7 linked regions of the Homo sapiens genome follow. The protein of the gene in region 4 interacts with the protein of the main gene of each other region in a biochemical or structural test. Each region holds a gene or a part of one and is shown on either strand. Other genes may lie near its edges.

The links.
Region 1: the proteins of LDB3 (region 4) and PALLD interact in a test that uses a peptide from one of them, tested with the Homo sapiens proteins (one large-scale study listed by IntAct).
Region 2: the proteins of LDB3 (region 4) and GJC1 interact in a test that uses a peptide from one of them, tested with the Homo sapiens proteins (one large-scale study listed by IntAct).
Region 3: the proteins of LDB3 (region 4) and KCNV1 interact in a test that uses a peptide from one of them, tested with the Homo sapiens proteins (one large-scale study listed by IntAct).
Region 5: the proteins of LDB3 (region 4) and FZD1 interact in a test that uses a peptide from one of them, tested with the Homo sapiens proteins (one large-scale study listed by IntAct).
Region 6: the proteins of LDB3 (region 4) and SLC6A3 interact in a test that uses a peptide from one of them, tested with the Homo sapiens proteins (one large-scale study listed by IntAct).
Region 7: the proteins of LDB3 (region 4) and KCNA7 interact in a test that uses a peptide from one of them, tested with the Homo sapiens proteins (one large-scale study listed by IntAct).

Annotation. Positions count from the first base shown.
Region 1 is NC_000004.12:168,920,052-168,923,551, forward strand, and holds part of PALLD (palladin), read left to right. Parts: intron 1-1,482; coding exon 1,483-1,690; intron 1,691-3,500. UniProt on the Homo sapiens protein: Cytoskeletal protein required for organization of normal actin cytoskeleton. Roles in establishing cell morphology, motility, cell adhesion and cell-extracellular matrix interactions in a variety of cell types.
Region 2 is NC_000017.11:44,820,288-44,823,787, reverse strand, and holds part of GJC1 (gap junction gamma-1 protein), read left to right. Parts: intron 1-3,500. UniProt on the Homo sapiens protein: One gap junction consists of a cluster of closely packed pairs of transmembrane channels, the connexons, through which materials of low MW diffuse from one cell to a neighboring cell.
Region 3 is NC_000008.11:109,969,272-109,972,771, reverse strand, and holds part of KCNV1 (potassium voltage-gated channel subfamily V member 1), read left to right. Parts: coding exon 1-514; intron 515-3,500. UniProt on the Homo sapiens protein: Potassium channel subunit that does not form functional channels by itself. Modulates KCNB1 and KCNB2 channel activity by shifting the threshold for inactivation to more negative values and by slowing the rate of inactivation.
Region 4 is NC_000010.11:86,717,011-86,720,510, forward strand, and holds part of LDB3 (LIM domain-binding protein 3), read left to right. Parts: intron 1-953; coding exon 954-1,134; intron 1,135-1,716; coding exon 1,717-1,837; intron 1,838-3,500. UniProt on the Homo sapiens protein: May function as an adapter in striated muscle to couple protein kinase C-mediated signaling via its LIM domains to the cytoskeleton.
Region 5 is NC_000007.14:91,262,939-91,267,232, reverse strand, and holds the start of FZD1 (frizzled-1), read right to left. Parts: upstream 2,801-4,294; 5' UTR 2,353-2,800; coding exon 409-2,352; 3' UTR 1-408. UniProt on the Homo sapiens protein: Receptor for Wnt proteins. Activated by WNT3A, WNT3, WNT1 and to a lesser extent WNT2, but apparently not by WNT4, WNT5A, WNT5B, WNT6, WNT7A or WNT7B. Contradictory results showing activation by WNT7B have been described for mouse.
Region 6 is NC_000005.10:1,410,941-1,414,440, reverse strand, and holds part of SLC6A3 (sodium-dependent dopamine transporter), read left to right. Parts: intron 1-3,085; coding exon 3,086-3,198; intron 3,199-3,500. UniProt on the Homo sapiens protein: Mediates sodium- and chloride-dependent transport of dopamine. Also mediates sodium- and chloride-dependent transport of norepinephrine (also known as noradrenaline). Regulator of light-dependent retinal hyaloid vessel regression, downstream of OPN5 signaling.
Region 7 is NC_000019.10:49,069,900-49,073,991, reverse strand, and holds the start of KCNA7 (potassium voltage-gated channel subfamily A member 7), read left to right. Parts: upstream 1-1,292; 5' UTR 1,293-1,406; coding exon 1,407-1,961; intron 1,962-3,113; coding exon 3,114-3,929; 3' UTR 3,930-4,092. UniProt on the Homo sapiens protein: Mediates the voltage-dependent potassium ion permeability of excitable membranes.

The sequences.
Region 1 (3,500 bases), on a different chromosome or scaffold from region 4:
TGGTAAAGTAGGAACAAGCAGTGCCGCTTTGTTTCTAGATGTGGGAACAACAAGGAGCCTGACCAAAGATGTCCACTCCCTCTTCCTCCACACCACTTCTGATGACCTCCAAACAGGTCAGGCAGTGTACATGGAGAGCTGGGGACAGCAAGTGGATAGATAGGAGAACACAGAGCCTGAGTGTCTCAGAAGCCAAGCTGCCTAACTACTGCTGTTTGTTTCCAAAACCTCTTCATCCTTTTAACCAGTCATTTAAGTTTACTTTAAATGCTGTAGCCCTTTGCTACATGTGTGGTGGGAGGCATCTTGCAGGTAATATCAGTTGAGTATCACGTAGCAGGAATGGAATTTGTGAGTCCTCTGGCTGATGCTGGCAAAGCTAGTTCTTCAAAAGAACTGTTTTACAGTCTAAGTGACATCTTTTTGTATATAACTTCGTACTAGTAAAGTTGGGGGTAGGGGGTAAAAAGGCCTTCCTTAACAGTGCATTTCTTCCATTCAAAATCAAGGGCAAAACTAAAAAGCTGGCAGATGGCGACCATCCTGACCCTTTGCGGCACAACATGTTATTAGCAATTAAATGCTTTTATCTGATCTCTGGTCCACACAACTGTCAAGGTCTCAAGATTTTATGATGTTTCCATTGTGATGGTAATTTGTTGAGATGGCTTTCTGGGTAATTTCGTATTGCTCTTGTTATTCAGTTTCAAGGATTATAAAATAATAATAGCAGCCCTGTGTGCTGACGAATGCATTCTCCATAACTATGGCTGCTCCTTGATGAGAAGCTTTACAGTACTATATATAAATGCCAGCTGAGTATTTGTTATTATTGTTGGACATCTTTTTTCAAAGAAGCCCAGAGCCTGGTGCTGATATCATCCCATTAATCTCCATAGCCCTGGGCAAGGTAAGACCATGACAGCAATTTTTTAAATCCCATCTCGGTCTTCTCTAGGTTGCTCTGTAAGAATTGTTTAGATGTAAGCTGGTGAGTGCTCAGGAAGCCAAAGTTTAAAGCAAAAGTTTTAAGCAAAAGAGTAACATGAGCTGATACTAAAAGCCATCTCTTGGCCCGGTGCAATGGCTCATGCTTGTAATCCCAGCACTTTGGGAGGCTGAGGCAGGCGGATCACCTGAGGTCAGGAGTTCAAGACCAGCCCGGCCAACATAGTGAAACCCTATCTCTACTGAAAATACTAAAAATTAGGCTGGCATAGTGGCAGGCATCTGTAATCCCAGCTACTCAGGAGGCTGAGACAGGAGAATCGCTTGAACCCGGGAGGCAGAGGTTGCAGTGAGCTGAGATTGTGCCACTGCACTCCAGCCTGGGCAATAAGAGTGAAACTCTGTCCAAAAAAAAAAAAAAAAAAAAGCCACCTCTTGTACTACTGAAGGAGGAATTTATGCAGACTTCTTAGCTACCAGTGATTTCACTCTGTTTTAATACAAAAATTTACATGTATTTCTTTTATGATTTAGGTCAGTGGGTTACCAACCCCAGATCTAAGCTGGCAACTAGATGGAAAGCCCGTACGCCCTGACAGTGCTCACAAGATGCTGGTGCGTGAGAACGGGGTGCACTCTCTGATCATAGAGCCAGTCACGTCACGTGATGCCGGCATCTACACATGTATAGCTACCAACCGAGCAGGACAGAACTCATTCAGCCTGGAGCTTGTGGTTGCTGGTAGGCTCATCTGTGAATCCTTGCTCTCTGACAGAATGAACATCAGACTTACAAATGTAAACTAATTCTACATTACTAACCAATACGGAAAATAAAGTATTGAAAAAATAGATTGTATCATCAAAATAGCCAATGAGGACATGGTTATAAGGCCTAGCAAAACAGAAACAGAAATCTTTCATTTCTCCCACTAACCTGGCAAAGAGAGAAAAAGATTTTATTAGCTCTTTTGGGTCATTCGACCTCCTGTGTGTATAGTGGCCCCTAGTGTTACATAGAGAAATAGTAACAGCAGCATGGACTCCAAGAACCAAAGAATTTGCTTATATATAAAGTTTTATATTTATATATATATATATATACACACACACACACACACACACACACACACACACACACACACCTGGTTTTTAAAACAACACTGTCATCTACCCTCATAGTCATTGTCAAACTACACTCAGATTTGCTTTTTCACTGATTATTGTGTAGGTAAATTCTGTAAAAGTGCTGTTACATGAAGTCTTATGCTTTGAGAAGCCTAAAAGGAAAACACATTTATGGAAAGGTTTTTATACCATCCTTAAGAGTTAGGTGTTGAGTACCTGATCTCTTTTAAGAAAGAACATAACAAAACATTTATTTCTTCTACCTCTTTATGCAAAGTGCTTCATGTACATTATGTATCAGTTGGCCCTCACATGAGCCTTATGAGATAATCAGAGCAAATCTTCTCTGAATTTTCCAGGGTCCCACTTAGTAAGCTGATGATTAGATTTAACACAAGACTCCTAGTGCTCTTCTAAACACACTACGTCACTGAGCTCTTTCAAGAAATAGAGTAGCAATGAGAATAAAACCCAAGAAGTCTTGACAAAACTCTTGGATTATGATTCTGATAATGGTACCAAGATGTTTTCACATAAAAATGTGGTAAATATGTGGACTGTGGTGCTACAGGTTAGCCATGCTTTCAAGTTTTGTACAAAGTACTCTATATTCTTACATGCTACAATTGATTTCATTCCTCTAACCTCAAACTAAAACTTCACTTTTCTGCTGTTAAATATGCCTTTTGATCACATAGATACCTCAGTGCGCATCAGCTGGCACTCCTGTCAGAAGACGGTGATGCACAGTAATTGGAAGCAAAGTCTTTGGGGTCAGATCTGCTCCAGTCCCGGCTCTTGTCGATTTTACTAGTGTGACATTTGGCAAATAGCTATCTCTGCGACTTAGTTTCTCCATATATAAAATGGGAATATAATGCCTCACAGTGCTTTCCTAAGGATTAAATCATAAAAATGTGTATGAAGCTCTGCATAACTAGTACCCTGCACAGCAATGCTGCAAAGTGGTAGATGTTATTCTTACTGATGAGTTGCTATGACATTAAGACTTGTTTTATACATTTTATGTTCTTTGCAAAACTGGAGCCCCAGAAAGAATACAAAGTGAGCTTCTGTTCCCACTTCTCCCAGAATAGCCTAGGATGGGCAACCATGTAAAATTCAATAAAAATCCAACCTTCTAACTAACTCGTGGTGTTGGAGAGTATTAAGCATTTGAAAAGTTCAGGTAGAATTTTCATCCTTTTTGAGCTCTTTCCTAGCTGCTTTGCTGTGATATATCTGTCACTCCAGATGAGGGAGTAGTGGTGGAAAAGGAATGCATTCTCAGATTCATTGTTGGTAGTTCAAAAGAAAATAAGTAAACCTTATTCATTCTCTGAAGTACTTTCCACCACTACTACAACTGATCCAAGAAAACAATTTCCCATTGGATGGTATTATTCAGAGTGTTATTAACAATC
Region 2 (3,500 bases), on a different chromosome or scaffold from region 4:
GTGAGCTAAGATTGTGCCACTGCACTCCAGGCTAGGCGACAGAACAAGACTCCATCTCAAAAAAAAAAAAAGGAAAGGAAAGAAAGGCCAGGCATGGTGCCTCACACCAGTAATCACAGCTCTTCTGGAGGTCATGGCAGGAGGATTGCTTGAGTCCAGGAGTTCAAGACCAACCTGGGCAATATGATGAGACCCTGTCTCTACAAAAATAAGAAATTTTAAAAAAAAGGAGGAAAGAGGCTAGGTACGGTGGCTCACGCCTGTAATCTCAGCACTTTGGGAGGCCGAGGCGGGGGGATCATGAGGTCAAGAGATCAAGACCATCCTGGCCAACATGGTGAAACCCCGTCTCTACTAAAAATACAAAAATTAGCTGGGCCTGGTGGCACACACCTGTAGTCCCAGCTACTTGCGAGACTGAGACAGGAGAATCACTTGAACCCGGGAGGCGGAGTTTGCAGTGAGCTGAGATCACACCACTGCACTGAAGCCTGGTGACAGAGCAACACTCCGTCTTAAAAAAAAAAAAAAAAAAAAAACAGGAAAGAAATGCATAGGGTTTCAGAGTAAGTTTTGATGTTTTTCCTCTATATAAATCGGATAAACTTCACACACCCCTATTCTTATCCTCTAATCTCTAAACTATATTCAACTCCCAATAGTTATAGAGATTATTTTCATTCACATGTTTGTAGTATTTATCAGTTTTGGCTTAATTTATTATTACTTAACTAATGAGTTATAACATTCCTTTTGGGAACGTTCAAATTAGAGCTGGACTCTATTTTAGGAATTCCCCTTGAGTCATTCTTGGACTTGGAATTCCTAATTGCCCATCCAGAGTAGATGTTTATTTGGATTCAAAATTTTCCTTCCTGAAATTATCCATTCTGTGGCTTCGGTTACCATATATATTTTGAATACTGCCACATTTTTATCTGTAGCCAGACCTCTTTTTTTATCCTGGCTGCCTGTTCAACATCTCCACAGAGATACTCAGAGGAGGTAATTTGAATTGTGTTGTCCAAAGTGAGCTCTTCATCTTGGCCCCACACCTAGACTTTCTTCAGTGTACTCTATTTTATTAAGTGGCTCTATCACACAATTTACTGAGGCTGGACTCTTTTTTTTTTTTTTTTTTTTTGAGATGGAGTTTCGCTCTTGTTGCTCAGGCGGGAGTGCAATGGCATGATCTTGGTTCACTGCAACCTCTGCCTCCCGGTTTCAGGCGATTCTCCTGCCTCAGCCTCCCGAGTAGCTGAGATTACAGGCGCCTGCCACCACGCCCAGCTAATTTTTTATATTTTTAGTAGAGATAGGGTTTCACCATGTTGGCCAGGTTGGTCTCGAACTCCTGACCTCAGGTGATCCACCCGCCTCGGCCTCCCAAAGTGCTGGGATTATAGGCATGAGCCAACACACCCTAATTTTAGAATATTTTAGATTGTTTTTATTCCGTCAAAAAGAAACCTGATACCCGTTAGCAGTTACTCCCTCCTTATTCCCCCCATAATGGTTGTACAATATTCCATTATGGAGGTTATACCATAAATTATATATGTTTCTTTTTTTTTTTTTTTTTTTTTTTTTTGAGACGGAGTCTCGATCTGTCTCCCAGGCTGGAGTGCAGTGGCACGATCTTGGCTCACTGCAAGCTCCGCCTCCCAGGTTCACACCATTCTCCTGCCTCAGCCTCCCAAGTAGCTGGGACTACAGGCGCCCGCCACCATGCCCGGCTAATTTTTTGTATTTTTAGCAGAGACAGGATTTCACAGTGTTAGCCAGGATGGTCTTGATCTCCTGACCTTGTGATCCACCTGCCTCGGCCTCCCAAAGTGCTAGGATTACAGGTGTTAGCCACCGCACCCAACCTAATTATATGTGTTTCTTATAATAAATGCCCTGTATTTGTTTAGGGTAAATTACTAAATGTGGAATTATTGATCAAAGGATATAAGCACTTTAAAGTTCTTGATAACTGTTGCCAAGATGCCTTCCAGAAAAGTTGTACCAGATGACACCATTGGTGTATGATGGTATGGGTGTTGGTGTTTTTTTGTTGTTTTTTTTTTTTTTTTTTTTTTTTTTTTGAGACGGAGTTTCCCTCTTGTTGCCCAGGCTGGAGTGCAATGGCGCGATCTTGGCTCACTGCAGCCTCCACCTCCCAAGTTCAAGTGATTCTCCTGCATCAGCCTCCCAAGTAGCTGAGATTACAGGCGTGTGCCACCACGCCCGCTAATTTTGTATTTTTAGTAGAGACAGGATTTCGCCAATATTGGTCAGGCTGGTCTCGAACTCCTGACCTCAGGTGATCCGCCTGCCTCAGCCTCCCAAAGTGCTGGGATTACAGGCATGAGCCACCGCACCCAGCCGATGGTATGGGTTGGGTTTTTTTAAAGAAATTTTGTATCATAAACGTAGTCATATTGGAAAATCATACATTTATTTTTGTCTTAGACATGTTCGTTTTTCTAGACTGAGCATTGTTCAGAACAGTTGGTTTGACCTAATCTTAGGCTGTTTTGGACAAATGTTCCAATATTGTCCTGTTTGCATGAAGACAGTTCCACTTAGGATATGTTGTGAATGAATATATTATCCCTATCCCAGGTTCCTCATACTTCTCCAGCTGGTTCCTGAAGGTTCTTACATTCAAATAGAATGGCTTTTTGCCAGCGAAAATTGGCACTTCAACCCACAATGGTGCTTTTTGTTTCCTCATTGGTTGATACAGCCAAGATCTCAAACTACTCACTCTCCATGAGATTTTATAATTTGATTCGCCACAAATTATATTTTAGGTTTTTCAAATATTCATAGCCAAGAGCTCTTTTGAAAACAAGTTGTTTTCATGTTTGTAGCACATAGATTACTATGTGCTACTTAGCTGCTGTAATGCTTTTGCTTAGAAATTGTCACGAGCTAGTTATTAAACATCTATTATCACTCATGTGGAATTAACTTCCACTTAAAACGTTCCAGTTAAACAACACTTCATTGTAAACCCTTTAATTGATTCCTGGTCTCTGCACATAAAGCAGTCGCGTTCAGGGGTATGAGTCACTAGCACGATTCTTAGTGGATTGCTCAGCTCATGAGCTGGGATGCCTAGATTGTTAATACCTACTTTGGAATTACAGTGAGTCAATATTGAAATTTTTAAATTTAGTCCAACCGCAAATTTTCTGAAATGATCGTTTGGGAAGTGCCTTTTTAAAATTTTGACATCTTGTTATATTGTTTAATTTTACTGCTATTACTTTACTTTTCTCCTATCCCTAGACTTTTGAGTTCCACATAATTTGTCAGTTTGGTGAATTTTACTCTGAGATAGTTTTCATCAAATGTTAAATGGAAGAGATTTTAGAAATCATCTAACTTGATATTCTTCATTTATTTCAGAAATTAGGATATGGAAAGAACTTATTCCTGAAGTGCATGGATTATATTCTGGGATTAGAATCTCTTGCCTTCTAGTCCATTGCTTGCTTAGTTTCACA
Region 3 (3,500 bases), on a different chromosome or scaffold from region 4:
GAGCTGAGTGAAACTTTAGACTTCAAGAAGGACACAGAAGACCAGGAAAGTCAACATGAGAGTGAACAGGACTTCTCCCAAGGACCTTGTCCCACTGTTCGCCAGAAGCTCTGGAATATCCTGGAGAAACCTGGATCTTCCACAGCTGCCCGTATCTTTGGCGTCATCTCCATTATCTTCGTGGTGGTGTCCATCATTAACATGGCCCTGATGTCAGCTGAGTTAAGCTGGCTGGACCTGCAGCTGCTGGAAATCCTGGAGTATGTGTGCATTAGCTGGTTCACCGGGGAGTTTGTCCTCCGCTTCCTGTGTGTGCGGGACAGGTGTCGCTTCCTAAGAAAGGTGCCAAACATCATAGACCTCCTTGCCATCTTGCCCTTCTACATCACTCTTCTGGTAGAGAGCCTAAGTGGGAGCCAGACCACGCAGGAGCTGGAGAACGTGGGGCGCATTGTCCAGGTGTTGAGGCTGCTCAGGGCTCTGCGCATGCTAAAGCTGGGCAGACATTCCACAGGTATTCACATTTCACTGATGCCTTTTAATTTGCCATTGCATGTAAGCATTCGTTTTTTGACCACAGTACAAGGAAAGTAACGCTGAACTGATATTCAAAATTACCAACTCCCATACTTTACCTGATCATGACCTCTAAGGAGATATTGGGAGGCAAAACATTGAAGTTGCTATCACAGGTATAGAGAAATGAGCTCTCACATACCTCCTCTCCATAAGAGAAATGTTGAGAGACAATTTGACCATTTGCTAACCTCAGTTTATTTGAAACCATTACCCAGAAGATATACAAAAATTAAACGCACTCTGCCTATTCAAGGTTCTGGACAAAACAGGCATAAATGACACATAAAAAGATACACATAAATTATATATGATATATAGGGACATAAGCCAATTTCTCTTCAGTATCCGAGAAGTGCTTGCCACATATGCTCCTTGGCAGAAGAGAAAGTCAGCCCTTCAGAGCCTTCTCTGGCCATGCAGAAAGAGAAATGACTAGGTGCAGGTGGCCTTTCCAAAATTTTCAAAGAAGCAATGAAAATATTTTGCTTTGGGAGAAAGCAAAATAAACTAATTAAATGCTTTATCTAGTATCTGAAGGTTTTCTTGTCCCTAACCTGGGATGTATGAGAGAGGGGAATACAGAAATCCCTTAGTTTTTTGTGTATCACAGAGCCTTTGAAAATCTAATTAATATTTTCCTAGAAAAGTCTCCATATAACACACACACAAACACATAAGATACGTGAAAATTATAATCAATATCAGTGAAAATCACAGGAACTGATTAAAAATGATTCTTGCATCCCCAACAGTAGTAGTTATCAGTGGCTGGCCTTGCAGCTGTCAGATATTGTGGAGTATATGAGTTTCCTTATGACATACCTTAATGAAAATAAGGATCCCCAGGCAAGCTTGTTGAAATACAGCTTCTGGCTCCAACCCCCAGAAAGCTTGAGATCGGGTCTAGGAGCACACATTTTATAAATAATAAGTTCACCAATGACTTTGATGTAGGTGGTTCTTGGACCAAACCTAGAGAAACACTGGAGTATGATGCCATATTAATTTTATATATGTTGATACAAATACATATTAGCACAAACAAATTGGCTAGATATCACTATCCTTATTTTATTTCCCTAGATATGTGCCCTGACTGACCACCTAAAAAAGGTTGATGGTAGTTGTCCTTCCTATAAATGTCAGGTGAAATTACTTCTGATATGTTTTTCTTCAACATTTCTCTGACAATTAGAACTTATTATAATATAATTTTGGTAGTGTATTTTCCTAGCTAGTCTCACATACCAGGAATTTGATAATGGGGTTTCCAATAACTTTTACAAGTACCACTCTTTGTTTTCTGACACAGATAATGGGATGCTTTCTTCAAGTATTTATAAACTCTTCACAAGACTCAATTTAAAAACACCCAGTAAAAACTACATTTTTTTCCAAAAGAAAGGAAAAGGAAAATAACAGTGATTTCCACAATGTCTCCTCTTCAAAGATTTTCACCATTCTAAAACAAGTATAAAGTTTTAGTAAACCCTTAATTATTAAAAAATATGTGACTTGCATATTTGACAATTTTGCCTCAACACTACATTTATTAAAATGTACACATAGATGACCTATTTCCCCATGTATTAATTATAAATTCAAATTGAGAGATGTTATAGGATAATGGGTTTTTGGCCAGAAACTAGGTTTAAATCCTGGCTCTGTAGCTTTCTACTAGATAAGCTATCTCTTTATGCCTCAGCCTCCTCGTCTGTATAATGGCATAACAATTACCATGTCCCTCTTATATCCTTTCTTTTGAAGATTCTCTGAGTTAATAGAGATAACATGCTAGAAATTCCACCCACTTTGTTTTCCTTTACAAAATTGTTTTGAACATTTTGCCTTTAAACTAAAACAGTGTTCCCAGACAAATGCTATGCATCTCCTCATATGCTGTGAATTTATTTAAGGAACATAATTCCATGTAGACACATCAAGGCCAGTTTTTTATAAAAGTAAAGGTATTATAAAGGTATTCTGAAAGATACTCTTTTGAAGTTAAACTTCAAAATACTCAATGATCTTTAAAAATAGCTGGTTAATAATTCAAGAATATCTCAAAATTTGAAGAGCAAAATTCAAAATCCTAAGAGTATGATTAGTATGCTAATGCCTTTGAAATAGTCTCTAGTGAGTGAATAAAAACAAAAAATGATTCTAAGAGGTATTGTTTTGGACTTCTGGGGCAATATCATTTTGACATCATGTTGATATAATTTCAAAATGTGGACAAACTTTAATAACCACCTCTCTAGTATTAGGGAATAAATCTTATGGTTCATTCAAAGCCTGGTTCCATAATGGGCTTTTCTTTCTTTCTTTTTTTTTTTTTTTCTTTTTTTGAGAGGGAGTCTCATTCTATTGCCCAGGCTGGATTGCAATGGCGTGATCTTGGCTCACTGCAACCTTCGCCTCCCAGGTTCAAGTTATTCTCCTGCCTCAGCCTCCCGAGTAACTAGGATTACAGGCACGCACCACCACGCTGGGCTGATTTTGCTATTTTTAGTAGGGATAGGGTTTCACCATGTTGGCCAGGTTGGTCTCAAACTTCTGACCTCATGATCTGCCTGCCTCAGCCTCCCAAAGTGCTGAGATTATAGGCGTGAGCCACCGTGCCCGGCCCATAATGGGCTCTTACTCCCCTTAGGCCTAGTGTCTTCAGAGACGGAATTGGACTATCGTGGTTCTGTCTCCCTGGGGTTTAATAAATCCTCAGATCTAGGAATGGAAAAGCAGCCAATGCTTCATAAAGAGTAAATTCTCTAGTGGTTCCATTTCCCATACCTTTTTGCAATGGAGGAATATTCTGTATTCAGGTCTATGTTATTATAGGAAAGCAGAAATTTTATGTACTCAAGGGAGATAATTTCTTACAGCTTTGGTATTAAGGAGTAGGGTTTCAGTGGGTGTCTTGG
Region 4 (3,500 bases):
CCAGCAGGATGCCTGGTGCCAGGAACTCCCCCTTGGGCTAAGGTTGAGGTCTGGGAATCACCAGGCTTGTCAGTAGGTTTACAGGGCATTTTGTTAGACAGTGTTGGTTTTGACCCAGTTTTCCTTTAGGGTTGTTTCTGGGTCTTTCCACAGACAGGCCTGGGCTGCTCAGGGGGTTGGTGGGCATCTGCCAGACTAAAATGAAAACAAGTGATTTCATACTTAGAAGCCATGGACCATGGGTGCTGTTGTTTGAATACAGTATGTTTGTGTGCATGTGTGGTGTGAGCTTATATACGTGAAAAATACACTTTTATTTAAAACTAAAGTAATACATACTCATTAGTGAAGAATTGGAAAACACAGAAAAGTAAAAATTAGAATATAAAAAAATGTCTTCATAGTCCCACTGTTCTGACTGCTAACCTGGAACTAGACAATACAAGTTTGTATCCTGGTCTACCACTTACTAGCCCTATGGCCTTAAACAAGTTGTTCAAACTCTGTGTGCCTCAATTCCCCTATCTAAAAATGGGTATTATAATAGTACCTAGTGCGTAGGATTGTTGTGAGAATTAAGCAAGTTAATAAATGCAAAAGTCTTCTTGAATAGAGCCTGACACAGAGTAATCACTTAATAAATGTTAGCCATCAGCATCATCATTATTGCATTTCTTACTATCATTATCAGTGGTCAACTGAATTCTATAATATGTTTACCCAGTCCCCTATTGGTAGATGTTTGAGTTGCTTCCTGATTTTCTTTATTGTAAGTGATGCAACAATGAACACCTTTCTGCATGGAGCTTTCTCTGAATTTCACATTACTTCATCAGAACAGTCACAAAAGTCAGAGTTATTGGGTAAAAGTATAAACAGTGTTGGGGTTCTTCAAATATCTAATTCCAAGTTCTGGGAGCTGCCTTACTGGGTGCCATTCTGTGCTTCCCCAGGGGCCCATTTCTGGTAGCCATGGGCCGTTCTTGGCACCCTGAAGAGTTCACCTGTGCCTACTGCAAGACTTCCCTGGCAGATGTGTGCTTTGTGGAAGAGCAGAACAACGTTTACTGTGAGCGATGTTATGAGCAATTCTTTGCCCCGCTGTGTGCCAAGTGCAACACCAAAATTATGGGGGTAAGTGGGAGGCCTCCATTTCCTCTGACCCATGTCTCTTCCCCAGCCCTTCCCCAAGATCGTGGGATCCCATTAGGAAGCCAAGAAGTTGCTGGTAACAGAGAAAGCAACTCCATTTTTATCCTAAAAGGGAATTGGTTTGCCACCAATAAACTTGGGGATAAATGAACTTGATGCAAGAGATGATTGTGTGCCTGTTCCACACAGCTTGAAGTGGTGGTGGAACTTCTGCAAAGCAAGTGGTTGCTTCACAGCCTGACCTTACCACTCACCAGAATGTGGCCTTAACCCTCAATGCCCCTTTGGTAAATGACAGTAATAAGCAGTACCTCCTCCCAGGTTTAATGGGAGGATTAAGCCTCACAGTTTATGTAAGAAAGCACAGAACCTGGCACCCAGCTGGAGAGTGACAACCCCTTCTCTGACACCCCTGGGTCTTTCTTCAGAGTGACCAAGGCCTGCATCCTGAGATCTCCTGCCCTGTTCCCTGGTAGGATGCTCGGGCAGTGGCTGGAGCCTGGTGGGGTAGTCAAGCCCGCTCCCTCTCTCCTTTCTGTCCTGAGCTTAGGCTCTTTCCCCCAGGAAGTAATGCATGCCTTGAGACAGACATGGCACACCACCTGCTTCGTCTGTGCGGCCTGCAAGAAGCCTTTTGGGAACAGCCTCTTCCACATGGAAGACGGGGAGCCCTACTGCGAGAAAGGTAGGAACACTTCGATGGCATGTGGGGAGGCCCCACAGCCTGGGAGAAAGGGGCAGGCACAGGGAACTAACTCCTGCCTAATCCATTCACATCCGACCACCCAGAGGCCTTTATTTCTGGAAGAAACCTTTGTTTTTGCTTTTAATGGCAGAATCATGCTAATATCACACAAAGGAAGTTAACTATCTCCCCTGCCCATATGGTTGCAGCTTTGGGGAGAGTGAGGTGCAGAGTCTATAGCTTATTTTATGCATCAAATATGTGGATCTGGTTAGGTGAGGTGGCTCACACCTTAATCCCAGCACTTTGGGAGGCCGAGACAGAAGAATTGCTTGAGCCCAGGAGTTTGACACCAGCAACATAGCAAGACCCAGTCTCTACAAAAAATATAAACATTAGCCAGGTGTGGTGGCGCGTGCCTGTAGTCTCAGCTACGCAGGAGGCTGAAGTGGGAGGGTCGCTTGAGTCCAGGAGTTCGAGGCTGCAGTAACCTGTGATAGCACCACTGTATTCAGCCTAGGCAACAGAGTAAGATCCTGTATCTCAAAAAAAAAAAAAAATGTAGATCACAAGTTGGCATCTTATGACCACTGGGAAACCTTTCAGGTTATTTTGATTTGGAGACCACAAGGTCTAGTCTGAAAAGGCCTTGGCTGTGGACTTTGTCCTTCATTCTATTCCTGGTTCCACTTTGGGCTGCTTTGTAAACCTGAGCAAGTTACTAACCTTCTCTGAGCCTTACTTTCCTCGTCTGTAAACACCTGCCTTACAGAGCTGTGGTGAGGATTAAACCAGAGAAGGCGTGTAGAGCATCAAATATGCGAGACCCCTTCCTCTGCCCCTGTGATATTTATCAGACTTTGATGTTCCTGCAGATTCCTGTAATCTCACGGAGTGAATTCAGAGTTTCTCTGTACCCCCAAAATGCTATATGTTATCTTAAAATGCTAAGTAAATTATTGTAAATTCAAGAGACAAAGCACTTCATTAGATAGGTGGAAGTCAGTCACTCATTTATTCAGAGGCTTCCCCCTTCAGAAAGGATTTGAAGCAGGTTCCAGAAAAGGTAACACAGACATGAAGGCTAAGACAGTAGAACCAGAAAATCAGAGGCGGGAAAAGCAGGCATGCTGATTATGAAGAATAACAGAGCTGCAGGGACTAACTGGGTAGCAAATTTGAGGGCAAAAAGAGAAACACAGTAAGTTAGTTTACTTTAAAATCAGAAAGGAGAAAACATTCAGTTCCTCAAGGGAAAAAGCAAAACAAAATAAAACTTCTTTCCCCTGACTGTAAATTAGAAAATAAACGTTTTGGCTGGGCGCGGTGGCTCACGCCTGTAATCCCAGCACTTTGAGAGGCCAAGGCAGGCGAATCACCTGAGGTCAGGAGTTCAAGACCAGCCTGGCCAAAATGGTGAAACCCCATCTCTACAAAAATACGAAAATTAGCCGAGCATGATGGCGGGCGTCTGTAATCCCAGCTACTCGGGAGGCTGAGGTTGAAGAATCGCTTGAACCCGGGAGGCAGAGGTTGCAGTGAGCTGAGATACTGCCGTTGCACTCCAGCCTGGGCAACACAGTAAGACTCCATCTGAAAAAAAAAAGAAAGAAAGAAAAGAAACGTCTTGGGTTCTTGTACTAGTGAATGCCCTTCCCAGCTC
Region 5 (4,294 bases), on a different chromosome or scaffold from region 4:
TGCAATACTCCGAAAAGGGCAAGAAGGAAAAGCCTCAAATGGTTAAACCGCCCTAAATAATTAAAAACTTTTGAAAAAGAAAAACGCGTGATCGGTCGTCATTTAAATACAAATATACTTACAAAAATCTTACACAGGCTATTTACAATCATAAAAGCGAACAGTCCTGGTACCAGAGTGTGAGGGCAAGAGGTCTGTCCATCCTCCCTCTGGCAGTCGGGCCCTCGTGTCCTTTTGCCTCAGGGACGGAAGCTTTTGCAGGAGCTGAGTTGTTCAAAGGAGCCTGCGAAAGAGAGTTGTCTAGTGAGGAAACCTCGAGATGTCAGGATTGGCACGAACTCCACGGCGCTGGCTTTGGGGGATCGCTGCGCCCCGGCCGAGGCCTGGGCATGGGCTGAGCCCCGGGTCTCAGACTGTAGTCTCCCCTTGTTTGCTGTTGGTGAGCCTCGTGTAGAACTTCCTCCAGGAGTTGAGGGTCTTGCCGGACCAGATCCAGAAGCCCGACGTGATGCCCACGATCAGCGTCATAAGGTACTTAATCATGAAGACCGTGAAGTCCGGGCTCATGGGCGGGTGCGGCGGGGCGCCTCCGCCCGCCTGGAGGTGAGGGCAGGGGATAGCGTAGCTCTTGCAGCTCTGGGCCACCCAGCTGCGTTCCCACTGGTCCCGGAAGGCCTGCTCGTAGAAGTAGCAGGCGATGACGATGGTGGCTGGCACAGTGTACAGCACGCTGAAGACGCCAATGCGCACCATGAGCTTCTCCAGCTTCTCGGTCTTGGTGCCATCGTGCTTCATGATGGTGCGGATGCGGAAGAGCGACACAAAGCCGGCCAGCAGAAAGGACGTGCCGATAAACAGGTACACGAAGAGGGGCGCCAGCACGAAGCCACGCAGCGCGTCCACGTTGTTAAGCCCCACGAAGCACACTCCGCTCAGCACATCGCCGTCCACCTGGCCCAGCGCCAGGATGGTGATGGTCTTGATGGCCGGCACAGCCCAGGCGGCCAGGTGAAAATACTGTGAGTTGGCTTCGATGGCCTCGTGGCCCCACTTCATGCCAGCCGCCAGGAACCAGGTGAGCGACAGGATCACCCACCAGATGGAGCTGGCCATGCTGAAGAAGTAGAGCATCATGAAGAGGATGGTGCAGCCCTCCTTCTTGGTGCCCTGCGCCACAGTGCGTGCCCCGTCCTCGGCGAACTTGTCATTACACACCACTCGGTCTTCCAGGAGGAAGCCGGCGATGTAGGCCACGGCCACGGCCGTGTAACAGCCGGACAAGAAGATGATGGGCCGCTCCGGGTAGCTGAAGCGCCGCATGTCCACCAGGTACGTAAGCACCGTGAAGAGCGTGGAGGCGCAGCACAGCACTGACCAAATGCCAATCCAGGTGCGCGAGAAGCGCAGCTCCTCGGGCCCGAAGTACATGAGCCCATACACCTTGGTCGGCTCACAAGGTGCGCCGCAGTCCTTCTCCCCCAGGAAGTGGTAGTTGAGGTAGGAGGGCACCTTGAGGGCGCGCGGGCAGGAGAACTTGCCTCGCTCCGACGCGCCGGCGCCCCCCGGGAAGCCGCCACGGTGCCCTCCGCCGCCGTGCTGAGGGTTGCTGGTCCAGAACTCTGGAAGCAGCGAGGGCGTCGGGGTGCCCTTGTCGGACGTGTTCTGGCCCACGCACAGCTCGCCGGCGCCGTGCACCGGGAACTTCTCACACTTGAGCGTGTCTGGCCACTGGAAGCCGAACTTGTTCATGAGCGCCTCGCAGCCCTGGCGCGCGCGCTCGCACAGGGAGCGGCAGGGCGGCAGCGCCTGCTCTAGCACGGTGCACACGGGCGCGTACATGGAGCACAGGAAGAACTTGAGCTCAGCGGAACACTGCACTTTCACTAGAGGGTAGAACTGGTGCACCTCCAGGCCCGCGTCCTCCTGGTTCGTGTGGCCCAGCAGGTTGGGCATGATGGTCTGGTTGTACGCGATGTCCGTGCACAGCGGGATGGAGATGGGCTGGCAATAGCCGTGGTCCGGGACGGAGATGCCCCGCTCGCCGTTGTACTGCTGCCCGCTCTGTTGCTGCTGAGGCGGCGGCGGCGGTTGCTGCCCCGGCCCGGGCCCCTGGCCTGGCCCCTGGCCCGCCGCCTGGGCCCGGACCCCCAGCAGCAGCGGAGCCTCCAGCAGCCAAAGCAGCAGCAGCAGCTGGCGCGCCAATCGCCGGGGGTCAACTGGCGGGCGGCGGCGGCCACCGGCGTCCCCGCTGCCCTCCTCCGCCAGCCGGGCCGAGAGCGCCCCGGCACAAAGTTCCCAGCTCGCGCCACCGCCGGCGGCCCGGGACTTCTTAGGCGCCTCCTCCTCAGCCATACTTTCTCGGCTCCTCTCTTGGCGCCGCTCCGCTGGGGCTGCCAGGGGCACGGCCGGCGGCGGCTCCCCCTGCGGCCAGGGAGACCTCTGCGCGGGTGCCCTCCGTCGAGCCCAAGCCGCTTTCGGCCCGCTCCCCCGGCTCCTGTTCTGCGTACCGCAGCCGCCGCCGCCGCGGAAACTTGCGATTCATGAAGCGCGGGCGGCGGGGAGAACCCGGGTGGCTAGGGCGCGCCGGGGTCGTGTCCCGCCTTCCTGGCCCTCGGCTCGCTGGCTCCCGGCTGGCGGCGCCGCGCTAGTGGCCGCGGCCCCGTAGAGAGCGCAACTCTCCGCAGCCCAGCGGGCTCGGCTCCCCCCTGCGCCTCCGCCTCCTTCTCCGCCGCCGCCGCCTGACCATTTGTGTCAATCCCTCAACTCGCTCCCTCTCCTCTGCCTCGCGCGCCCTCGGACCGGTTTCCAGGCGCCCCGTAGTCTGTCTTTCACCAGGAGGGAGGAGCCTTGAAACCGACGCAGAACTGGAGGCTCAGGGACCGTCGCCCAATCGCGGCTCCGGCTTCCCGGCGCAAAGGGAGCCGGCCGCCTCCTCGCCAGAGCGAAAGCCAGCGGCAGGAGGGCGGGGTAGGAGGAGGCGGGAGGAGGAGGAAGTAGTGGTGGTGGCACTACTCAGGCACAAAGAGTAGGATTGCTCTGAAGCGGGACAGGCTTGGTTGCTTTTGCTTTTTCAGAAGAAAAAGGCGAGGATACGTAGGAGAATGGTCCCATATGCTGCTGGAGATAATGAATAGGAGTCAGAGGACCGCGGGACTTCGCTTTTCTTTTATTTTATCCATTATCATGTTTAAAAATCCTGCTCTTAACGCTGGTTACCAACAGCAAACCGGGTTCTGCTTCCAGAACAGATGCCTTTGACTTAAGGAGCGCACGGTTTCCTTTGAGTTTGTGTCTGTCGAGGTTTTGTTTAACATATTACATTAATAAATCCTCCAGTTCGCAGGCTGGGCTTGGCGGGCTTTGGTCGCGCCATTTCCCCAGAGGAGACGTTCACGGGATCGCTGTCAAATGAAACAAAACACAAACTTTGATGGAATTTGGAAAGTAAAGCCAGATGCGCCTTCTGCTACTATCATTCTTCTTGGAGTCAAACTCCTTTTTTTCCGCCTCTTTAATCAAGTCAGAAACAGAAGCAAAAGAAAACTATCCATTAAATTTTTGGAGAGAAAAACTTAAGAACCCGACGACCGAGGCAGTGGGGGCGCCTCTCTGGGATCGTCCTCGCCGCTCCAGACCGCAGAGGTGGCGCCGGCGGGAGCTGCACTCGCCGGCAGCTTGGGCCCCTGGGGAGCCTTTCTAAACCCTGGGGACGCCCACGGCTCCGATGGGAACTCCTGGGACCTGGGCCATTTAGGTTCCACAGGCTGGGCTGCAGAGCTGGAGACGCCAGTTTAATAAACAAAACAAACAAACAGTCTGAAAGCAAACAGCGAACTGCACATTCTCTTCCTAATTCCAAAACAGCATAATCCGTCTCAACAGACGCACATTAATGTTGTTTTCCTTGTAAGATTATTTTAAATGATGGTTTGACTATGTAATTCAGTTTTATAAGAAAAGTGCCATTGGACTATTAATTCTTCCATTTTTTTTTTTTTTTTGCCTGTGATCAGACTCTATCTCAGCGTACTTTTCACCAATTACTTTCTATCATTCATTTACACATTCATTTGTTTAATAGATACCAACCACCCATTGTGCTATAAGCACTCTTAGGTCGTAGAGTATAAAATGAAGGAGACCTGTGCCAGCCTTAGAGAGGGGCATAGTACAGTGAGGCACAGAAATGCAAATCACTTGTTACAGTGTCCATCCCAAAGCCAAAAAGGCACATAGAAAGCAACCAGCTCAGATGAAATGGGGTTCTGACGGAGAGGTAGGTGCAAGGTGCAAA
Region 6 (3,500 bases), on a different chromosome or scaffold from region 4:
CCCACCCAGTGCCTTCTCCGCCCTGCCCCTCCAGGCCCCCCCACCCAGTGCCTTTCCTGCCTTGTGCCTCTCGGGGCCTCCACCCTGGGCTGGGGAACCTCAAGCCCAAATGCAGCTGAGCAGCATAGTTGGTGCCTCAGTCCCTCGACTGCTCCCTGCAGATGCCACATGAGGCTGCCCCACCAGGGTCTGGCGTAGATGCTGTCACTGAGGGCCCTCTAGATGTTTGCTTGCCACGCGGTGTGGGAACATGCAGCTCAGGGAAGGGGAGGAATGAGCTGTTCCAGCAACACCTGGAGGCAGGCTGGGATGCCGCAAACATCAGCTTGGCCACAGAGCAGCCGGGAGATCCCTGGGGCCTCCAGCACAGGGTGTCCCTGCCCGCTCCCCAGGCCGACGCATGACGCTGAGTGTCCCTGCACGCCTGGAGTTGTCTCCGAGAGGGTGGGGAGGGGTCCAGGTCTCGGGCAGGCACAGGTGAGTGGTGGGGGGAGGCCTTGGCCACAGCAAGAAGTGTGCCAGGCAGGATGGAGCCGGCAGGACGGGCACAGATGCAGGGGCTGAGAGTGGGCCCAGGCACTTGGGGCCACGTGCCTGGCTCCGGTGCTTGCAGTGGAAAGCTGTGGCGTTGGCAGCCCTAACTTGGGCCAACCGAGAGCTCCAGGGAGTCCCAAGGCTTCTCGGTCTCTGTCAGCCAGCAGAGCCCCCGCCTGCCTCCCGGCCTGCTCTGCCACATGGATGTGGAGGAGGCCCTTTCGCTCCAGACACGGGCCTGGGTTGGGTGGGCTCCCATGCTGCGTCCCCATCCTTGCTTCCTCTGGACTGTCTTCTCCGGGGGTGGGGTGGGGGCACTACATTTGTGAGGAATGATTGTGCTCAGAAAAGCCCCTGTCCCGTGTGGGTGTTGTTGCTGACTGATCTCTGCCTGGGTGTTGAGGCTCAGTGAAGGCGGGGAGCGACAAGCACCAAGCGGGGGCAGCCTTGACCGCACCTGAGTCTCACAGAGTGGGGCACTAGGACCCTCGCACCGCAGGTAGGAACACGCTCAGAGACCTGAAAGGGCCCACTCCATGCTTGCAACAGAAAGCCAGGGTCGGGGCTGGAGCCACAGCTCAGAGGTGGGCCTCCTAAGCCCATGTTCTTTCCACTAGGAAAAAAAATTCAGTCAAAGCGGGAGAAAGGGAACATCTGCAAATAAATGCAGAGCAGTGAAATTTACTCGGTGCCGCATTTATGCCTTTTCTTCATTCTTTTTGCCCTTTATTATGATAACGAGCATAGTTTGCAAAAACCTCTATTAACCCCTGAAAATAAAGTTGAATGTTCTTCTGTGCATTTCATGACAAGCAAAGTAAATGTCATTTACAGCCTTAATTCTCAAGAAAATAGGGTGAAATGTTAACTTAGGTACAGAAACGAAGGCACGGGTGTTGACATTACATTCCCTGAGCTGATGAATATCTTCCCAGGCTCCTGGCTGGTACCATCTAAGCCCCGGAACATCTCAGGCGAGCCTGCCTCCCCCACCCCACGCGGAGGCTGTCCCCATCCACCAGGGTATCTGGGAGCTGCGAGAGCCCAGGTCTGACCCCGCTGCTTGGCTGATAGTGAGGCCCCTGAAAGACCTTTAGGAACGGCCCCTGGCTCTGGCCTTTGATTATTTAAAAGGCCAGGCGCAGGCCTATTCCTGCAGGCTAGGGCCAGACACGTGCCTGCTGAGGACAGGGGACTCTGTTGCAGGCAGATTGGGCTTGGGAGATGGTGCCAGCCAGTGGAGGATGCAAGGCTTCTGAACTGGTCAAAGGTCAATTGCCTATGGGACTGGTTTTTACTTTGGGGTCATCAGAGACCAAACTGCGTTGACTTTTGGTCGCCTGCCTGCCACACTCTCGTCCCCTCCACCTCCATCCGAGTCTGCCTGCTGGTAGCAGGAAGCACGTGTCGTTTCCCGAGAGAGCTGTGGGGGAACACCTCCTCCGCCTTTGCCATGCCGCCCTCAGCCTGGCGTGCCCCTCGCTTGCAGGGATAGCAAGGTAGCAGGTTTGTCTCTTATCTCCGAAGCCACCATCTGGGCCCCTGTATCCATCAGGATGTGCTGCTCCTCTGAGCCCTCAGGGCCCCAGCTGACAGGAGCCTGTCTCAATATGGCCTGCGGGACCCCGTGGCAGGGGAGGTGGTGAAGGAGCCACACACTCCTCTACCAAGCTTCACTCGCAGGGACCCGCTCACTGTGGGTTCACAGCACATTGGCCAAGTGCAGCCACGTCTAACCTCACGGGAGGGTGGGAGGACCTCAGCTTCCTCATGTGCCTGGAAGGCGGAGGTCAGGAATGTATCCCTAAATGTTTTGCTAATTTTAGAAATTAGGCTACTAAATAGTGTGGACGTGTGTGATTTGTGTGTGTTTGTGTATGTTTGTGCATGCACGTGCATGTTTCTGTTTGTGTGCGTGCATGTGGATGTGTTCTTGCATGTATGAGTTTGAATGCACAAATGAGTGTTCGTGCATGTGCGCGCATGTGTCTGTGTGTGTATATTGCATGGTATGTGTGTCTGAGTGTGTATGTTGCATGGTATGTGTGTCTGAGTGTGTATGTTGCATGGTATGTGTGTCTGAGTGTGTATGTTGCATGGTATGTGTGTCTGAGTGTGTATGTTGCATGGTATGTGTGTCTGAGTGTGTATGTTGCATGGTATGTGCAGGAAAAACTAACTCGAAGGACATTAGCAGATGTCCCTGGGATGAAGGGCAGGACCAGCCTGGAAGCCCCTCCTGCTCCTCCTTGTTTCTGCCCCTTCCTTCCCCAAGCACCCCCATAGCCCAAAAGGACCCAGGTAATTTGGAGGAGCCCCATTGCTGGGTGGTGGGCATGAACCAAAGCCCTCTGATCAGTTCTGGGTTTCCGCTTTCCTGAGTCCCAGGCCTGGTCTGCTGGACATATAGAAGGGGGCTTTTCAGCAGAGCCGCACCAGCCCTAGTCTCTACAGGCCTGTGGCAGGCCATGCTTCTCGGGGCGGGGTGGGGCAGGATGGGCGGGAGAGCACAGCGTGGGCTCTGTGGCAAGCAGGGCGGGTTCTGTTTCAGGGCCAGGGCTGATCTTCATCATCTACCCGGAAGCCATCGCCACGCTCCCTCTGTCCTCAGCCTGGGCCGTGGTCTTCTTCATCATGCTGCTCACCCTGGGTATCGACAGCGCCGTGAGTAACCCGCACCGCCCGGCCCTGTCCTCGGCAGTTGGGTTCCTTCCACCCGAGGGGGCCCTGCCCTCCCAGGGCTAGGCAAGATCCCTGGGCTCACGTACGGCCCCCAGACCTCCTGTCCTTGACTTGGGCGAGCCCCGTGATTATTTGGGAGACCTTTCTCGGGGCTGGAGTGAGTGGTGACTGGAGTTTACCTTTCCCTTTATCCCCCTACTCTGGGGTACCTGTGTGCCCTGCCCTGAGCCACCTACAGATCCTGGAAATGTGCACACACATGCACACACACACATACACGCACA
Region 7 (4,092 bases), on a different chromosome or scaffold from region 4:
AATGACCCTGTGGCATCTCCCCGGCCCACACCCCCAACCCCCGCCCGTTCCGGCAAGACCAGACTCCTTTTGCCAGAGTCATAGCCGCAGCTCAGGTCCTGCTAGGTCTCAGAAAGTCTTGCGAAGAATCCAGGTGGAGACTCTGGAGCGAACTCTGGGGAGAGAATGGGGCGTGTGTGCACATGCTCAGTGGTTTGCAGCTGCCAGAGTGACCCTAGGATGGGACAGCCACCGGGACTGTGGCAGCACCCACATGGAGTGATGGTCAGGGAGAGATCAAGAGATATGACTCCGGAGACCCTAAGTCCTCTAGAGACCCCAAGGGGAGACCCAAAGGGGAGCGGCCGAGGAACCCTGAGACAGAGACATGGAGGGCTAAGAGATAATGAGCAAAAAGAGACCTAGAGAGGAGAGACAAAGAGACCAAGAGAGACAAGAGATAAACGGAGACAGACCAAGAGTCAAAATAAAGGCGGAGACCGAGACGTAGAGGCTGGCAGAGGGACCCATACAGAGGCCCCCAGAACGACGAATCTCAGAAATAAATGACCCATAGAGATACTCAGAGATACATCCCAAAAGAGACAGAGACCCAGAGGGGACAGCCGGACACAGACACACAAGAGAGTGAGAGACAAAGGTGCAAACAGGGCGACTCCAGGCCGGGCGCCGTGGCTCACGCTTGTAACCCCAGCAATTCGGGAGGCCAAGGAGGGCAGATCACTTGAGGTCGGGAGTACCAGACCTGCCTGGCCAACATGGTGAAACCCCTTCTCAACTAAAAAAGAAAAAAGAAAAAAAATTAGCTGGGCTTGGTGGCGCCTGTAATTCCAGCTACTAGGGAGGCTGAGGCACGAGAATCGCTTGATCCCGGGAGGTGGAGGTTGTTGCAGTGAGCCGAGATCGCGCCACTGCACTCCAGCCCGGGCGACAGAGGGAAACTGTGTCTCAAAAAAAAAAAAAAAAAAAAAGACAGAAAGAAAGAAGAAAGAGAAAAGAAAAGAGGCGACTGCAACTGAAGCCTGATTCTGACGAAACACACGCACACGGAAACTTGGAGAGACGCAGGACAGGATCCCGGCGGCAGAAGGACGGAGAGAAAGGGGACCCCGGGACGGGAAAGGCGCAGAGCAGGCGCGGGCGGCGGCGGCGGCGGGGCAGGGCAGGGCGGGCGTCCCGGCAGAGGGCGCGCGGTCGCCCTGTCGCCCTCCGCCCCGCCGGGGTCACAGTGCCCCCTCCCTCGCGCCCTAGCCGCCCTGCCGGGCTATTTTTACGCGCGGACACCGGACACCGGACACCGGGCTGGGGCGGCGGCGGCGGCGGCCGAGGCGGCCGAGGCGGGGCCGCACCGGGGCCGGGCGTCGGGGCCACACGTCGGTTCGCGGGTCGCCGGGGCTGCGCGCGCCATGGAGCCGCGGTGCCCGCCGCCGTGCGGCTGCTGCGAGCGGCTGGTGCTCAACGTGGCCGGGCTGCGCTTCGAGACGCGGGCGCGCACGCTGGGCCGCTTCCCGGACACTCTGCTAGGGGACCCAGCGCGCCGCGGCCGCTTCTACGACGACGCGCGCCGCGAGTATTTCTTCGACCGGCACCGGCCCAGCTTCGACGCCGTGCTCTACTACTACCAGTCCGGTGGGCGGCTGCGGCGGCCGGCGCACGTGCCGCTCGACGTCTTCCTGGAAGAGGTGGCCTTCTACGGGCTGGGCGCGGCGGCCCTGGCACGCCTGCGCGAGGACGAGGGCTGCCCGGTGCCGCCCGAGCGCCCCCTGCCCCGCCGCGCCTTCGCCCGCCAGCTGTGGCTGCTTTTCGAGTTTCCCGAGAGCTCTCAGGCCGCGCGCGTGCTCGCCGTAGTCTCCGTGCTGGTCATCCTCGTCTCCATCGTCGTCTTCTGCCTCGAGACGCTGCCTGACTTCCGCGACGACCGCGACGGCACGGGGCTTGCTGCTGCAGCCGCAGCCGGCCCGGTGAGAGGCGGGGCGTGGGTGGAGACGGGCGGGGTTTGGGAGGAGATGGGCGGGGTCCAGAGGGGACCTGGCCAATCATAAGGCGGGGCCAGGGGCTGCGAGGGGTGGGCCAGCCGAAGACAGGGTGGGCGGGAGGCGGGGCCTGAGGATCCGGGTCGGAGGACCTGCCCCATCAGAAGGTGGGGTTGAGGTCAGTGAGAAACCCGGCGTGAAGAGGGCAGGGCCCTTGATGCAAGGGGTAGGAGGACAGGAACCTTAAAAATCACAGCTGAGGGGGGCCAAGGAGAGCCTGAAAACTCCGGAGTCTGTGCGGCTGGGTGGTGAAAGCCAGGCCCTGAATAACTCCAGCTGAGGGTGCTGGAGCCCGAGGGGCGACAGTAGGAGGAATCTATGGAAAGAAAGCCAGGTTGAGGGGCCAGAGGAGGGGGCCTAGGGCTCGGCTTGCAGAGAAGGTCTTTTTTTTTTTATTTCCTGTGAGACAGAGTCTTGCTCTGTCGCCCAGGCTGGAGTGCAATGGCGCTATCTCGGCTCACTGCAAGGTCTGCCTCCCGGGTTCAAGCGATTCTCCTGCCTTAGCCTCCCAAGTAGCTGGGATTACAGGTGCAGGCCACCACGCCCGGCTAATTTTTGTATTTTTAGTAGAGATGGGGTTTCACCGTGTTGGCCAGGATGGTCTCTATTTCCTGACCTCGTGATCCGCCCGCCTCGGCTTCCCAAAGTGCTGGGATTACAGACGTGAGCCACCGCGCCCAGCCGCATTATACTCTGGGCTGGGACTGTGGAGGGCAAGGAAAAGCTAGGCACAAGGTGGTGGGGCCAGGGCAGGGATGCTCCCCATCTAGAAAATCAACACTGGAGGCGGGACTTTGAGAGAGAAGAGGTTGCACCCTACTCAAACATGAGTTCCCACGCATGAAGGGGCAGGGACCACGTCTCCAGCCACCCACCAGGTCAGGCAACCAGAAAGTCAGCGGCCCAGGGATGATCCCTGGGATCCTGGGAGGAAGTCTGGGATAACCAGGTCACGGAGGGCCTTGGCGCAGCGGCTACTGACCAATGTGTAAAGAGGAGCTGGGTATTTAAATGATGATTAAGGCTGTCCCCGTGTCCTAGCCCCAGCCTGACCCTCCCTGAACACTTTCCTCCCTGCAGTTCCCCGCTCCGCTGAATGGCTCCAGCCAAATGCCTGGAAATCCACCCCGCCTGCCCTTCAATGACCCGTTCTTCGTGGTGGAGACGCTGTGTATTTGTTGGTTCTCCTTTGAGCTGCTGGTACGCCTCCTGGTCTGTCCAAGCAAGGCTATCTTCTTCAAGAACGTGATGAACCTCATCGATTTTGTGGCTATCCTTCCCTACTTTGTGGCACTGGGCACCGAGCTGGCCCGGCAGCGAGGGGTGGGCCAGCAGGCCATGTCACTGGCCATCCTGAGAGTCATCCGATTGGTGCGTGTCTTCCGCATCTTCAAGCTGTCCCGGCACTCAAAGGGCCTGCAAATCTTGGGCCAGACGCTTCGGGCCTCCATGCGTGAGCTGGGCCTCCTCATCTTTTTCCTCTTCATCGGTGTGGTCCTCTTTTCCAGCGCCGTCTACTTTGCCGAAGTTGACCGGGTGGACTCCCATTTCACTAGCATCCCTGAGTCCTTCTGGTGGGCGGTAGTCACCATGACTACAGTTGGCTATGGAGACATGGCACCCGTCACTGTGGGTGGCAAGATAGTGGGCTCTCTGTGTGCCATTGCGGGCGTGCTGACTATTTCCCTGCCAGTGCCCGTCATTGTCTCCAATTTCAGCTACTTTTATCACCGGGAGACAGAGGGCGAAGAGGCTGGGATGTTCAGCCATGTGGACATGCAGCCTTGTGGCCCACTGGAGGGCAAGGCCAATGGGGGGCTGGTGGACGGGGAGGTACCTGAGCTACCACCTCCACTCTGGGCACCCCCAGGGAAACACCTGGTCACCGAAGTGTGAGGAACAGTTGAGGTCTGCAGGACCTCACACCTCCCTAGAGGGAGGGAGGGAGGGCAGGGTGGAGGGCAAGGCTGGGGGGAGGGGATTGGGTTTAGGAAGAGCTAGGTTAAGTCGTAACGAGTGGGGAAACACTGAGTCTTGTTGGGTCTTGGGTTGTGTGGTT